Linked DNA regions of Homo sapiens: region 1 is linked to region 2. The links come from fine-mapping of genetic effects on gene expression. A gene starts in region 2. The other region holds a variant in brackets. All regions are shown on one strand. Distances are from middle to middle.

Region 1 (8,554 bases), 22 kb after region 2:
TGAAGGGTAAGCAGCAAAACCCAGAGTCTAATGATGCTGTGCCTTTCTTCCCCAGGAAGTCTCACGGAAATGAACTGAAATATTTTAAAACTTGGGGCAATTAATCTAATCAGTTTTCCTTTTCCTTACAGAGGAAAATGATTACATTCCTTACAGATGATTTTAAAGGCACAATATTATCTGTAGCTTGTATCTATGGATTTTTGTAATTCAACTATTTGCTTCTTGACTAGCAACTCTGTCTTGCTTTAAAAATTAGTCAAATTCATATTTCATTGCCATTTCTAAGCAGGATAACAAAAAGTGCTTGTATCATATGACCTAGGGAAATATGTGGATAATTAGATTGAGCCCGTGAAATTCCCATCAAGAAAGGTAAATATTGGCGATTACATATGATTCAACAGAATACACATAACCCTGTGTTTTAGGGCCCTGGCTAAGGGTATAAGTTCCTTGGAATACAGTAGTTGCAGAGGATGGGGAGGGTCTAGGAGAGACAACATCAAAATCTACCCTGTGTCTACACAAAAGCGGTGGGACAGTCTAGCCAGAGTTGAGACAAAACAGGGAAGAATTGATTGATGGGATTTTGAGGACTGTTGTTACAAATATGGTCAGTTTTTGCCAGTCAATCCTTTTGCTGTTCCTGAAGAACTAGGGCCAAGCCTTGTGAGTGCTAGCAGTGGCTAAAATGGTGCTTCATGCTCTGTCTTCTATGAAGTACTGATGCCTTTTTGAAATATTAACTTTAGTAGCTCAATAAAAATTTAATTTCAACACAAGGCAGATTTCTTATAAAAAGGAGGGTGGAGAGGTTGTTAGGTTCGTCCTTTATAAGCACTGATTCCCTTCATATCTCCTACAGCCTCCCTCCACTCCCGCACAACTCTCCTCCACTCTCCCCCAACTCCCTACCACCCACACGTATATCTTACCTGATATATATTCTGTGCAATTTTGTAAAACTGGTTTTCTAAACTTTAAAAATGTGGCTTTTAGGTGCACATTAATTCTACAGGACTACTCTACAAGTTGCCAAAGGTTGAAAATTCCATGGAATTCTGTGGACAAAGTTTTTCCTGTTTTCAAGGAAAAATTGTGAAAGGCTTTGAATAGTGGTAATCTTATGCATGTATTCATTTCATATATTTCTTTTTTTTTTTTTTTTTTTTTTTTTGAGATGGAGTCTCACTCTGTTGCCCAGACTGGAGTGCAGTGGCGCAATCTCTGCTCACTGCAAGCTCCGCCTCCCGGGTTCACACCATTCTCCTGCCTCAGCCTCCCCAGTAGCTGGGACTATAGGCGCCCGCCACCACGCCCAACTAATTTTTTTTTTTTTTTTTTTTTTTTTTTTGTATTTTTAGTAGAGACGGGGTTTCACCGTGTTAGCCAGTATGGTCTTGATCTTCTGACCTCATGATCCACCCGCTTCAGCCTCCCAAAGAGCTGGGATTACAGGCGTGAGCCACCACACCCAGCCTCATATCTTTGTGAGTCATGATTATACCCTATTTTTAAAATCATCCTTTATAACATTATCAACTATACTTTGATGATGTCATTTTTCCAGGATATGCAAAGAGGTCATGGTCACTGACTCCTTAAGAGTGGAGCCTGACATATGCCTGACAGAGGGTCAATTGTTTAAGGTTATTGAAATTGATTTCATACCTTAAGAAAAAAAAATAGCCCCAGGTCTTGCAGAAGAAGATATAAATTCACAGCACAGTAAGAATAGTTTGAAATACATTTTTAATTTTTGAAAAATCAATATGTAATCTACAAAATATTTTGTTACATGATTAAGGCTCAACCTGTCTTATATTTGCATTGACAGAATACAAAACTGTATTTTAAGTAAGACATTATAATAGTCATTGTTAAGGAAGTCCTTCTAACTGACTTTATAAGAAAAGGGGCTGTATCACAAGCATAGCTCTGGAATGAAGGGAACTAACATCCTAGAACTGTCTAATATATACATCAGGTTGTAAAATTCCAGCCTTTATTTATGTGCTGGAAAGTATCTTTTTTACATATCTTTTTTTAGTGGATAAACTCTTGTGATTCCCACAGAAAAAGGAAATGTTCTTAAATTCAGATCTGCACAAATCATCTACCCATGAATTCATTTACACAGTTAATATGATCCTGTAACTGGAAAGGTGACCAGACTAGTCACAAACTGGTCAACTCCTTGGAAGTCTGCTCATTTGACTCCAAAATGGTCAAACTCACAATGGAGTGATCTAAGCAAAATGAATGCTAGAAAGGAATATTTCCTCCCTCATTCCTTTCCTTCCCCGCTTCCCTCCCCTAAAAGCAAGGGTTTTTTGAAGATCACTATTCCGGCAAGGGCAGTTCTACTTAATTTGAACCCTACCTGATTTTTCACCTAGAGTTCTGTAGTCACATCTGACCTTCTGCCAGTTCTGAGGTCAGAAGAATTGAATAAGCCTCCCCTCCCTACACAGAATGTTAATTTAACATTAAGTAATGAATATTTAAGGATCCTAATAGATGTGCGAATTAACAATTATGCTGTAACACCCTGCTGTTAATGCTATCAGCTTCTGCATTGCCACAGACAATCCATTTGGGCTTTAGTCCAGCTTTTGCTATTATATTGTCAAGACTGAATCTTGAGATGTCCTGAAGGCCCGGTGGCTTGTGAGTGAATAACCTGGGCAGGGAGGTACCCACAGATACTAGTCAACCTGTGAAGCATGAGGGGCAACTAAGTGAACCCTTTGCTGAATATATTTTGAGGTGTAAATAGTCATTAAGTTCATCCTAATCAGACTGTGAGTTCTTTGTGGGCAGGATGCCATAAAACACACTTAGAAAGGAATGGCAGTAATTAACCCACCTAACTTCACTGGGACTGTGGGCAGCATCAGTTTCGGCCGGCCTCCACATTCGTTCTGAGCAGACTGAAGTCACTGTAGAGTGCGCCCACACCAGATGATAAAGAAAGATGGTAGAATTTTTTTAATGACATACACACACAGATTTGCCCTACTCTACATCAACAGTGAGCCTCAAGCATATGATATTATAAGCAAGGCATCAAATGAAGTTAAAAAGAGCAATAGCGGCCGGGCATGGTGGCTCACGCATTTAATCCCAGAACTTTGGGAGGCCGAGGCTGGTGGATCACCTGAGGTCAGGAGTTCGAGACTAGCCCGGCCAACATGGGGAAACTCCGTCTGTAGTAAAAATACAAAAGAATTTTAGCCAGGCATGGTGGCTTGTGCCTGTAATCCCAGCTAGTTGGAGGCTGAGGCAGGAGAATCCCTTGAACCCAGGAGGCGGAGGTTGCAGTGAGCCAAGATGACACACTGCACTCCAGGCTGGGCAACAGAGTGAGACTCTGTCTCAAAAAAAGTAAAAAATAAAAACAGCAATAACAATTCCTTTCAACCAACCATCACCTATTGCATTCTTTGCCTTTACAGTAAAATAATGAAAAGCAATAAAATCTGCTGATTGATACAGACCATCATAAATGTTTGTCTTAATCTGTTTTTGAACAGATTTCAATGAATGTAATATAATATTAAATATTAAAAAAAACACATGAAATAAACTCTGTAGGCCAACACATAAATGTTGTTTGGAAGAACACTAAATCAGTTTTGACTCAAAACAAATCTAGCAAATAGAGAAAAATATCTCCTAATTATGTTTAAGACTCAACATAAATTGAAGGTATATTAATACCACATGGGGGAGTTTGTTTTTCAGACTAAAAACAATACCTGGAATATAGATTTCATAAATTTTAAAATTCTCACTTTTCACTGTAAATGCTGAAAGGAAATTATAAACAGAATTATAACTGCTAATGCTATTGACTTTTCATTAGAAACCAAACTATTATAGTCATTTACCTGACTCTGAAGAATAAAAATGTTGCCACTTAGAAATCTGGGTAAAATACCAAGTATCTTTCACTTTGCTCACCTTTTAATGAAAAATACTCTAAAATAAGCAGAATTAGCATAAAACAGCATGATAGCAGAACTAGTATAAAATAATCATAATGTGATTTAGACTTCTACTCAAGAGAGGCTTGTGTTCATTACAAATAATACTTTATCAAAATATGTCCTTAGAGTCTGTACTTTTGGAAAATAGTATTTATAAATTTTAAAAATTCATATTTAATATACACAAATATGTTAACTAGTGTCTAATACTCAGATTCCATTTTGAAAGGAATCCTGCCAAGTGAAAGGAAATATGTCTTAGTGATTTATACTAAAATATGTAGGACAACAGAAATAGCTTCTTTGCAGCACGCGCCAGAAAACAAACACATTTTGAAAATGACAATACAGTAGGAGAGAGACAGGTACCAAATATAGCCAATTATTATTTACCAACGGTAAGAGGACAGGTAAATAAGTAATTCAAAAGCACAGATACTTCCAGATCTACATTTTAGCCTGTGGTTTCAACATCATTCTACACCTAGCCACATTTCAGAGGCAAGAAAGAGGGAAAATTAACTATTTTGGTTTATGTCTCCTTTGATTCCCTTACCCTCTAGTACAGACACTAAGCAGCAAGAAGAGATGGGAAGAAATGAAGACGGCACCTCAGTAATCCAGAGAGCAAAACAGTCAGCCACTGAGTAATCAAAAATCATACTGGCTGCGGGGTCACACAACGAGTAACAGTGCCTTTGAGTTTCAATAGGAAGCAAAACATCACACGAATTATAGAAACATTTTAGATCGAACCCCTAGGACAAAAACACATGAAAAGCAAAAAATACAGATTGTTCGGTTTTAGGTCTAAACTTCTCTAAACACAGCCATCAGACCTGTCCTAAAACCGCTATTCAGAAGTCATTTCCACTCTACAGTAGCAGGACTTGGTGTGGTTTCGGTGAATTACATATTTGACAAGTGGGCTGTCATCATAAACTCTTGCTACTCCTACTGAGTTATGCAGTCACCAATTTTATCTGGGTCTTCTCCATCGATTTTAATCCACTT[C/T]TTTTCTATTTCAACCTGTTATGCAAAAGCAAAACACAGGCAGCATTAACAAATGCAACACAGCACTCACACCTCTTCAGTCCTATTTTATACATGTGGCACAGACTGCACAAACCTCACCCTTTGGACACAGACACAGCCCTCTACCCTCCTACAGTAGCTTCCAAGTGAGGCGCTCTGCTCTCCTTTTGAACAACAGAGCCCCTCAAATCCTCCCCGCCAGGGTCAAGTCTTCAAGAGCACCAAAACTGTCTTCTAAGTCAAACGTAGTTTTTATAAAATGTATACAGAATATGTATACTGAAAAAAAATTTACAGATCTGACTAGACATATGATCAATTATCCCTCTACCTGAATATATGGCTGTATCATGTATCTAGCCATTGGCCCCCTTAAGATTTATAATGCACCCAAAATTATCTAATTGAAACAAGCCATCTTACAAACTATTAGGTTGCTGCAAAACTAATGGCAAAAACCGTGATTACTTTTGCAGCAACCTAATAGTAAACCATCTGCTCTTCATCATTTTTGTCTCAGCTCAAATGTCACATCCTCCTGGAGGTCCTCCAGGACTACCCCTGATAAAGCCCTCCAGTCACTCTCTATCCCGTTACCCTATTTTATTACCTTCTTGGAATTTGTTATTAGTTGAAATCATATTTATTTATTTATTTATCTACTAACTATTTTTCGTTTACCCCCACTAGAAACTATGCTCCATGAGGACAGGGACTTTGTCTCTCTGTTCACACTGCTGTGTCCCTGCATGTGGAGCAGTATCTGGCAACAGATAATTACTAAATGGAAGAAAACATTTTGAAACTGCCACCAGGTGCACATCAACTAGTAAATGCTACTAAAGCAAGAGATACTTTGTAAAGTAATTTTTAATTGTCCACTAAAATTGCATGAACCTGGCATGCCCTGTGAATAGGAAAATAAGTATAAACACAGTCTCCATGCCACTTGACCCACATTTCAGTCACACATAATATATATATACCTAGTGTTATAGGTCAGGTTCCCCAAGAAATAAACTCTGAGATGGAGATCTGTGTGCAGAAAGTTTACTGGAGAGTGCCGTTGAGTTCAACATTCATGGGGGAGTGAGGCAGGAAATGAAGCTAAATGGGCAGAGAGAGAAGCTGGGATGCAATGTAGTCAGAATGAAGGCTTCTGTCCATGCCCTGGAGAGCTGAAGCTGGGCTGACCTACAGCGTTAGCCCAAGTTGATGCAAAGGGGCCTATACACCCCTGCATAGATTCCAGGAAGGAGGCATGACCTCAGGAAAGGCAGCTATCTTCAGCGGCGGCAATTCCCACCTGCTGGGGAAATACATCCTTCAGGTCTGAAGGGGCTGCACAGGACAGCACTACCTATCATTACTTTTATCAGTAGAAAAAGATAACTGGACCCAAACATAGACTTCTAAACAGATAGTCCAAAATAAAGAAAAATCCTGACTCACATTACTATAGTATAGGAAACCCAGTTGATATTAGCGATGTCATGTATAATATCACTATTTTTAATAGAAATAAATTAGTAGAAAATCAGAATGGCATTAATCTTTGCTGCAAGTCAAGCAACACATAGATTTTAAAATGCTATTTGAGAGGCACATGTTCTCAGGACCTCCTGAGGGCTGTGTAACAGGCAAAATTTAAATTTTTAAAAATAAAATAAATGCTATTAGAAATTATAAAATGTTGCTCATGTGAAAGACAGAAGGGAAACATACATTCTAAACTGAACCACCTGTCTGTAATGCACTATTTAATTTTTGTGATTTTTGAAATATTTTCTAGTTAAAAATACTTTTAGGCCAGGTGTGGTGGCTCACACCTCTAATCCCAGCACTTTGGGAGGCCGAGGCAGACAGATCACAAGGTCAGGAGTTCGAGACCAGCCTGGCCAACATGGTGAAACCCCATCTCTACTATAAACACAAAAAATTAGCCAGGCGTGGTGGCAGGCACCTGTAATCCCAGCTACTCGGGAGGCTGAGGCAGGAGAATTACTTGAACCTAGGAAGCGGAGGTTGCAGTGAGCCGAGACCATGCCACTGCACTCCAACCTGGGCAACAGAGCAAGACTCTGTCTCAAAATAAAGAAAACCTTTTAAACAAAATCAGCAAGATGCATCACCATTTCAAGATACTGTGGGAAATATGTGGCAGGAGACATCCATATATCTACTAAACTTGAGGATAAGAAGGGAAAACAAGTTTAGAAACAGATGTAAGTGTATGTCCTCCTTTAGTTCATCTGCCTAAGAATGCAGAAGAGCTGATGGCAAACATTTAAAACTACCATAATACCAGGCTGGATACGGTGGCTCACGCTTGTAATCCCAGCACTTTGGGAGGCCGAGGCAGGAGGATCACTTGAGACCAGGAATTTGAGACCAGCCTGACCAACATAGTGAGATCCCATCTCTATTTAAAAATTTAAAATAAAACTTTAAGCTACCAATAGGCTAGGCATGGTGGCTTACGCCTGTAATCCCAGCACTTGGGGAGGCCGAGAGGGTCAGATTACCTAAGGTCGGGAGTTTGAGACCAGCCTGGCCAACATGGCAAAACCCCATCTCTACTAAAAATAGAATAATAATAATAATAATAATAATAATAATAATAATAGCTGGGTGTGGTGGTGGGTGGCTGTAATCCCAGTTACTTGAGAGGCTGAGGCAGGAGAATCGCTTGGACCCAGGAGGCGGAGGTTGCAGTGAGCCAAGATAATGCCACTGCACTCCAGCCTGGGTGACAGAGTGAGATGCCGTCTTAAAAAAAAAAAAACTGAAAACTACCATAATAGAGTAACTCAGCATTTCCTAAAGCATGCTCCACAGAACACTATTCCACAAGATAGGGATAAGTGTTTTACATACACATACCCACAAAGACAAGACACAATAGCCAATGAGTTGGGAAAAACTGGGTTAACTAAGTTTAACAAGTTTCCTTATTGCAGGACTTCTTGGGAGCCTTTATTTAACATTAATTTAGTATACGGCATTCCCCAACTTATTCTTTTGTTGGATAATTATATGGGACACATGTTCTGCAGCACATATTTTGAGAAATGGTGTCCTAACATCATAATTTTTATTATAAATATGCTTCTAAAATGTAGATTCATTTTTAATGTCCTGTTTTTCATTGAGAGCTAAATTATTAAGTGTTCCCAACATTCTCCAGAATGGATAGGAAGAACTAAGCTCAATGGTGGCCATCAAGTTTCCATAGCTGAGATCCTCTCTAGGGCAAATCTCACCACACATATACACACACACACAACACATACACGATCACAAAAGACAGCAAAACAAATATTTAAAGCCAAATCAGGTCACAGTTCTAGAAGTTTTGGGATGTACCTGGATGTTGTAGCAAGCTCGCTGCTGAACATGTTTCTGTGGCTGGACATCACTCTCCACTCCCAGAGACCTGACCTCTGTCCTTGAGGCACAGGTGTCAGGCACGGAAAACTGAACAGTAGCAAATGGATACCAATCAGAGGGAATTTCTTGGTCTG
Region 2 (8,554 bases):
TATGCGAGTATACATTTATATATACACATATGAGTAACATAAAGATTATAAGAATCAGAAGAAAAAGAAAGGAATCAAGCATACAAGGATAGAAAACTCTTAAGTTTTATCTTTTATTAGCTAGTCCCTTCCAGTTTAAATTGATACGCATAATGTGGACAAACATTTCCCTTAAAAGCAGAAGTCTAGATTTGCTAAGTCCAAGAATAAAGATAAATGCACATGATCAATTTCTAGCCATTATTTTATATATCCAAAACAGTGAGGTAGCCTGAATAATCTCCATATTCTGAACTCTCCATTTTGCTCCCAATATATCAGATTTATAATATACACAAAAAATAAGAGAAAGAGAACACACAAACTTGCAAGCACTCACCTTTCCCTCTGCCACTTCTAATCCTTGACTAGACCCAGTCAAATTATCTGAAATTACCAATGGGTGCTCCCAACAGCTGACAAACTATGTGACTTTCCTCTAAAGAAAGGCTTTATCATCTTTGTAAAATTTAATATTTAAAATAAAAACTAGTTCGAATAACCTGAGTTTTTAATCAATAATTACATGGGGCAATGATTTATACTGTGTTCATTTAATAGAAATGATTTAGGTGTCCAAGCCTTCTCACCCTAAGAACATTACCCTGTCTAACTGAAAAACATTCCCAAATGAGAATTTGTTCTGAAGATACTAACAGTACTCATTTACTAATGGTATCCAACCTGTTGACGATTGCAATGTTTGGTGCAAGCTGTGCGGCAACTGAAGAGTAAACAGAGGTGATTGGATGCTATTTCTGAAGAAGTCTTCTGTTGCTTTAGACTGCAAAACCTTGGTTTCCCAGAGCTGCAGAGGGGAAAAAAAAAGTTTACTTTAAAAAAATATATACACATATAATGATACTTCTCTTTTTTTCAGTTTCTTAAAAACTAACGTCATCCTGATGGCACAATGAATGGGTAAGTACTAAACTATAATTTGAGAGATCAGAACTATATCAGTTTTGTATGCTGAAAAAAACAACAAAAGACAGGAAGAAAAAGTTGTATCGGCTACAAACCTGCTTCAAGTCTTTTAAAACTTGTTCCTCTATACCTTCTTCAGCAAATAGATTCCGAACTCCTTCAATTACATCTTCAATTACAGATCTGTAGAGTTTAGGCTACATAAAAGCAATTGTTAAAGTTTCATTTTATTTATTTATTTATTTATTTATTTATTTATTTATTTATTCTTGAGATGGAGTCATGCTCTGTTGCCCAGGCTGGAGTGCGGTGGCACGAACTCAGTTCACTGCAATTTCCACGTCCCAGGTTCAAGCAATTCTCCTGCCTCAGCCTCCTGAGTAGGTGCGATTACAGGTGCATGCCACCATGCCCCGCTAATTTTTGTATTTTTAGAGAGACAGGGTTTCACCATGATGGTCAGGCTGGTCTCGAACTCCTGGCCTCGTGATCCACCCGCCTCAGCCTCCCAAAGTGCTGGGATTACAGGCATGAGCCACCACACCCGGCCTGTTAAAGTTCTGACTTCTCAAGTTAGAACATATTTGGCCTTAAAAGATATGCAGTGCATACCTTCTAGTCTTGTGAAGTCACCATTAAAACTTTTACTATGTACATTCCTATTCCCAATATAGTCTTAGCTTTCCATAAACTGTGTTAGCTTCAGACCCATAGTCTCAGCCTATCTACAAGACTGAATTACAGAACTACAATAACATATGAGCTAATAATCTCAAAGATGCATGGTTATTGTCATGTTACTTGCCTTTTGTGTCAGTATTTAACCTCCTCAACTCCTTTTAAAAGGGAAATTAATGTAAGTCAACCAGAAATAGACCTTCTGTTTTCAATTTACCTCTTTATCAAAGTGGCCAAAGGAGAATTTTTTAGGGTTCACTATATTATTTCCACAAATATAAATAAACTCCAAGCCAGAAAACTGGGGTAAACACTTAAAATAGAGCAATTAAAGCTCATCTCACTTCCAAAATACACAAAGTCCAAAAAATATATATTCTGGACCATTATCAAATACACCTGTTCCAAAACGGATTTCCTACCAGAACCTAAGAAGGGCACGAACAACCTTACCCATCCACAGTGTGCATACTGAAGAGACCAAATAACATTCTAAAATACCTCCTAGTCAAACATGCCATGACAATGAAATTAAGCAGATTTCTACCCAGATTAAACACTAGTTATAGCAACAAAAAAGAGGGTATGTGAAAAAACTCAGCCCTTCATATCTATATAAACTATGCCCCCAGGCCAAAATGGCAATGCTATGTGCTGACAATACTGACTTAGTGGAAGTTCCACCGGCAAGAAACAGCAAAGCAGGAATTTAGTTGAGTTGCTCTTATTTCAAATTGCTTAATCACGCCAAAATGAAAATTGTGGCACTCTAGGATTGCCTTTTCATCCTACCCTATTCAGTACTCATTAAGAGTACTAAATAAATACTCCTAAATACTCCTGTTCATGCCAAGAGTAGCTGTGCTTTTTTTTTATTATTATTATTATTTTTTTTTTTTTGAGATGGAGTCTTGCTCTGTCACCCAGGCTGGAGTACGGTAGCACAATCTGGGCCCACTGCAACATCTGCCTCCTAAGTTCAAGTGATTCTCCTGTCTCAGCATCCAGAGTAGCTGGCACTACAGGCGTGCACGACCTCACCTGGCTAATTTTTTGTATTTTTAGTAGAGATGGGGTTTCACCATGTTGGCCAGGCTGGTCTCAAACTCCTAAGCTCAAGTGATCTGCCCACCTCGACCTTCCAAGGTGCTGGGATTACAGGTGTAAGCCACCGTGCCCAGCCCCTAAGAGTATTTAGTATTTAAAGCTATGCTTTAATCCTTCTAAAGACCCAGGGTAAACCTATACGAATAGGCCAATCAGTAACATTTAAATAATGTTATTCACAAGCACATGCATTAAGACTAAATGCCCCTAAATTAGGTGCTTCTTCTAAAACAGTTTATCCTGATAAAGGCATACTAAATTGATGCTTCAGTGGTAGTCCCAGCTAGTGTGATCACGCTTAACACCGAAGGAAAAAACTCTTAGGTCTAAAAAATCTTAACACAGCAGTAGTCAAAAAGTACCCATTAGAACACAGTTTTTCAGAAATCAAAATAGGTATTGAACATATTTTCTCTTCTATGACCACAGACTTTGTATTGCATCCCTGTTATTAAAACTATGTCTAGTCCATCTTAACTCCTCTATTTAAAATACAGACACTCCTTCATAGAATTCACAATCAGATAAATTGGCATACATAGTAACCTTATATTCAGGCAGAGTATAGGTATTTTATGTATCTTAAAACGCACTATCATAAAACACATATAATTAAAGTAGCATGTCTCTAAAAATGGAGCTGTTATACTGCATATATAATACCCGGAACCCATAAAATTACACAGATCTGGACAGGCACATTGCCTTTCACGAAATGTGAAGTCTGTTGAGATGAATTGGTAATAAAGATGAATCCTTGATTTTTGTTCTTTGATTCAGGTTTTTAAGATTGATGGTCTCCTAAGTGCCACTGAGACTAGAAATTCTCACTGTGCAAATTAAGTGTCCGTTAGAGGTAGGAGGGTAATGTAGGTTGTACACTTAAGCATTAAGTTGTTAAAGGACAACGAAATGGGCGGGTAGTGAAAGACACTAAAAACATGTGGGGAGGTAACATGAGATATCACATTGTTATTTCAAGCAGTAAATAATACAGCTTGGAATTAACAATGTCCACGGTAAAATTAACACAACCGAACTTGGAGGTTTTCTAGTATCTAGGAAACCAGCAGGGTTGAGGATCAGTTCCACCTCTAAACACCCCAACTAGATAGCCTCAGTTTGGGTAAAAAGAGAAAAAGGGCACTTGTTCTTTTGGCGGGGCTGGCCCAACTTCCTGCTGAACTACTGGCCCTCAGCAGCTTCCTCCAACACAGACGTGAAGAAGAGCCCCAGCCCCTAAGGAAGAGAGAGGGTTTATGACAATCTGTAAAGTGTCAGGGGGAAACAAAAGGTGCAGGGTTCGGCTGCCGTGAACCCGGAGTCCCAGGGCGCTCCCTCTACACAGAGCCTGAGGTCTTCCTTACCACCGGGTTGAGGCAGGCCATGACAGCACCTCCAGCACCTGGCCCTTTGCGCCTGCGCGGCACGCAGTGCCCTCGGAGGGAAACACTGGGCACGTTTTGAACGATGTACGTCAGGTGCGCAACCACGGAGAACGCCGGGGGCGTGGCTGGGCAGAAGAGAACGTTAATAGATGGAGCGGGTTTGAGTGGAGGTGGGGGTCAAGGCGGAGAGGCGGTCGGCCTGTGTGAGAAAAGAGACCCGCTAAAACGGATGGTTAGGTTGGGTCTAGCCGGCTTTGGGCCGTTCACAGGTTGTTTCCTCAATCCGTGAAAGATGAAAATCGAGGAGGGGAAATGCAGGGGTAGATCTCAGTCTAACTTCAGCTTTGAAGAAGATGGGGAAAGAAAAGAGGGGAGACTAGTGATATCTGTCCTCTGCATTTACCAATTTTCATTCCTCCCCCTACACCCCACTCACAGCTGAACTCCATTTTTTGTTGTATAAAAATATAACAAGAGCCAAATTTTTCTAAGACTTGTCAGCGTGGTACAGCAGCATCAGCAGCATCTGGGAACTTGTTAAATATGCAAATGATGGGTCCCACCCCAGCCCTCCTGAATCAGACTGGAGGATGGAGCCTAGCATTCTGTAACTTTAACATGCTCTCCAGGTGATTCCAATGGGCGCTGACATGAGACCCCCTGACCTAAGACAAAGAGTCTCAATTTTGGGTGCACATTAAAATCACGCGGGGAGCTTTAAAAAAAAGTTTAGTGCCTGGATCCCACTCGGCAAAATCTGATTCTAATATGCAGCCAAGGTGGAAAACCACTGCTAAAAGAAAGTCAGCAGCTAATACGTTCCTATCTCCTTTTCTTAGTTAGGCAGAAATCACCAGCTGTCTACCTACAATAATTCTCTCTCCTGAAGGGCAGAGCATCTTGGGGCATACGTTACCTAGCTAAGACTGAGGGAAGATGTAAGCACAGATAACCTGGAGGATTAGAAAAGGGAAGAAGTCACCATCTGTTGCCACAACTCTGCCTTTTTGGCAGGGTCTCACACTGTTGCCCAGGCTGCAGTGCAGTGGCATGATCACAGCTCGCTGCAGCGTCTACCTCCTGGGCTCAAGCAACCCACTGACTTCAGCCTCCCAAGGAGCTGAGACTACAGGTGTGTGTGCCACCACGCCCAGCTATTTTGTGTGTGTGAGTGTGTGTGTGTGTTTTGTAGAGACAGGTTTTCGCCATGTTGCCCAGGCTGGTCTCAAACTCTTGGTCTCAAGTGATCCACCAGCCGCAGCCTCCCAAAGTGCTGGAACTATAGGCATGACTCGCCGCACTTGGCCACAACTCTTCTAAACAGCCTTTCTATCCTGCAAATAGGTCTTGACCTAACCAGATGGATACGTTATTTGATGATTAAAAACTCTATTATATTTAAAATTGGCTGTTTATTTATTTATTTGTGCAAGTAAGTGCAGTAGAGCTGTTTATCCCCTACCACTGTGTATGTGATTTGCCTGGGTCAGGTACCTTATGGTTTGTGAGTTTCAAGTAGCTGATTTATATGATACCCTTTAGAAAACTTTCCTACATTGAAAACTATTAGAAATTTCTTTTACAAAAAGCCAAGAACTATATATGGTCATTTTAATGGTCATATCTCTCCACCTGGCAATTTACTACCAGGAGTGTTCAAAGTGACTTATCTTTCACCCAAAGTAGGAAAGCTAAAAGCAGTCATTGATTCCTACTGATATTATAAAATCCAATTAAATTATTCAAGCTGGGAAATAAGAAAGCTAAAAGTGTCTCTTGTTTTCCATCTTTTTCATAGGAAGGTTTTAAAGCTTTATTTCTAAATGCTTAGGATTGGTAATCACCTAACTTTCTGTGACAGCATACTGTTTTACTTTATTACACATTCTGCCCTTCTCAGAACTATACGTAGATCATGTATATTTTTTAAATTATTCTTGGATCTTGGTACCCATAAAAAGTGTAACTAAAAGTTGAATTGTTATTTCTTAGTACAGTCAGTATACTCAAGTTATGGAGAGGCTATGTAATGTTAGCAGAGAAATGTCAGCAAATTTCATTTGCCCCTTGCAGTTTGTCTGAATGGTCACTAGTCATTTCTTCCCAATAACAGGCAATGACTACTAGAGGAGGTATGCTTTAACACAAGTTCTAGGTAAATCCAAGTTGCAAATCTGCCACGTGGACCTGTGGTAGCCAGTTTTCAAGATGGCCCCCAGTGATCCCTGCCTCCTGGTATTGACCACTTGGTGTTGTCCCCTCCTACCTTGTACCATGGTAGGTTTATTTTACCACTAAAATAAAGAAGAAGTAGGTCTCCCTCTCCCTCTCCCGTCTCCCTCTCCCTCTCCCGTCTCCCTCTCCCTCTCCCGTCTCCCTCTCCCTCTCCCGTCTCCCTCTCCCTCTCCTTTCCACGGTCTCCCTCTCATGCCGGGCCAAAGCTGGACTGTACTGCTGCCATCTCGGCTCGCTGCAGCCTCCCTGCCTGATTCTCCTGCCTCAGCCTGCCGAGTGCCTGCGATTGCAGGCGCGCGCCGCCACGCCTGACTGGTTTTCGTGTTTTTTTGGTGGGGACGGGGTTTCGCTGTGTTGGCCGGACTGGTCTCCACCTCCTAGCCGCCAGTGATCCGCCAGCCTCGGCCTCCCGAGGTGCCGGGATTGCAGACGGAGTCTCATTCATTCAGTGCTCAATGGTGCCCAGGCTGGAGTGCAGTGGCGTGATCTCGGCTCGCTACGGCCTCCACCTCCCAGCCGCCTGCCTTGGCCTCCCAAAGTGCGGAGATTGCAGCCTCTGCCCGGCCGCCACCCCGTCTGGGAAGTGAGGAGCGTCTCTGCCGGGCTGCCCATCCTCTGGGAAGTGAGGAGCGTCTCTGCCTGGCTGCCCAGTCTGGAAAGTGAGGAGCGTCTCTGCCCGGCCGCCATCCCACCTGGGAAGTGAGGAGCACCTCGTCCGGGCCCCCATCCCATCTAGGAAGTGAGGAGCGTCTCTGCCCAGCAGCCCATCGTCTGAGATGTGGGGAGCGCCTCTGCCCCGCCGCCCCGTCTGGGATGTGAGGAGGGCCTCGGCCCGGCCGCGACCCCGTCTGGGAGGTGAGGAGCGTCTCTGCCAGGCCGCCCCGTCTGAGAAGTGAGGAGACCCTCCGCCTGGCAACCGCCCCGTCTGAGAAGTGAGGAGCCCCTCCGCCTGGCAACCGCCCCGTCTGGGAAGTGAGGAGCGTCTCCGCCCAGCAGCCGCCCCGTCCGGGAGGGAGGTGGGGGGCTCAGCCCCCCGCCCGGCCAGCCGCCCCGTCCGGGAGGTGAGGGGCGCCTCTGCCCGGCCGCCCCTACTGGGAAGTGAGGAGCCCCTCTGCCCAGCCAGGAGCCCCTCTGCCCAGCCAGCCGCCCCGTCCGGGAGGGAGGTGGGGGGGTCAGCCCCCCGCCTGGCCAGCCACCCAGTCCGGGAGCTGAGGGGCGCCTCTGCCCGGCCACCCCTACTGGGAAGTGAGGAGCCCCTCTGCCCGGCCACCACCCCGTCTGGGAGGTGTACCCAACAGCTCATTGAGAATGGGCCATGATGACGATGGCAGTTTTCTGGAATAGAAAAGGGGGCAAGGTGGGGAAAAGATTGAGAAATCGAATGGTTGCCGTGTCTGTGTAGAAAGAAGTAGACATGGGAGACTTTTCATTTTGTTCTGTACTAAGAAAAATTCTTCTGCCTTGGGATCCTGTTGATCTATGACCTTACCCCCAACCCTGTGCTCTCTGAAACATGTGCTGTGTCCACTCAGGGTTAAATGGATTAAGGGCGGTGCAAGATGTGCTTTGTTAAACAGATGCTTGAAGGCAGCATGCTCATTAAGAGTCATCACCACTCCCTAATCTCAAGTACCCAGGGACACAAACACTCTGCCTAGGAAAACAGAGACCTTTGTTCACTTGTTTGTCTGCTGACCTTCCCTCCACTAGTGTCCTATGACCCTGCCAAATCCCCCTCTGTGAGAAACACCCAAGAATGATCAATAAAAAAAAAAATTAAATTAAAATAAAAAAAAAAAAGAAGAAGTAGTAGCATATCACCTTTGAGATAAGGTTATTCATAGCTGTGGATTCTTTCTTGGGCTCACTCTCTCATTTTGGAGGAAGCCAGCTGTCATGTCATGAGGATACTCAGGTAGCTTATGGAGGGGTCTATTTGGCAAGGAACTGAGACTCCAGCCCACAGTCAGCAAGTATGAGAAACCCTCAAACAGTCACATAAGTAAGTTCGGAAATAGATCCTTCCCCAGTTGAACTATCAGATGATTGCAGCCCTGACAAGCTTTACTACATATCTTTGAGTTATCTTGAACCAAATCTACGCTCTAAGCATCTCCTAGATTCCTGATCCTCAGAAGCTATATGAGATCATGAATATCTGTAATTTTATTTGCAGTTAC

Which allele goes with the higher level. Alleles are on the strand shown, and positions count from the first base shown. SD is a standard deviation of normalised expression in the study named.
For the expression in gastroesophageal junction of the gene that starts at base 4,158 in region 2, allele T in region 1 goes with a higher level than allele C (large effect, 0.90 SD a copy in GTEx).

What was found.
Region 1: its variant is fine-mapped to the expression of GTF2A1L in gastroesophageal junction (GTEx, PIP above 0.99). The same link has a PIP of 0.9 or more in esophagus muscle, ileum, lung, prostate, sigmoid colon and stomach.

What each region holds. Positions count from the first base shown.
Region 1 is chr2:48,591,698-48,600,251 of GRCh38, reverse strand. It overlaps STON1-GTF2A1L (STON1-GTF2A1L readthrough), which reads right to left. Exons shown (of 11, transcript NM_001198593.2): 3 at 8,397-8,554. STON1 (stonin 1) reads right to left here. Exons shown (of 4, transcript NM_006873.4): 3 at 8,397-8,554; 4 at 1,739-5,024. The coding sequence ends at 4,950. Among named protein-coding and RNA genes, the nearest start is that of GTF2A1L, 22 kb to the left of the region's middle. The variant C/T (reference allele first, on the strand shown) is at 5,010.
Region 2 is chr2:48,613,460-48,622,013 of GRCh38, reverse strand. GTF2A1L (general transcription factor IIA subunit 1 like) reads right to left here and starts at 4,158. Exons shown (of 9, transcript NM_006872.5): 1 at 4,119-4,158; 2 at 1,062-1,163; 3 at 724-847. The coding sequence starts at 4,139. STON1-GTF2A1L (STON1-GTF2A1L readthrough) reads right to left here. Exons shown (of 11, transcript NM_001198593.2): 4 at 1,062-1,163; 5 at 724-847. RefSeq lists an enhancer at 6,657-7,160.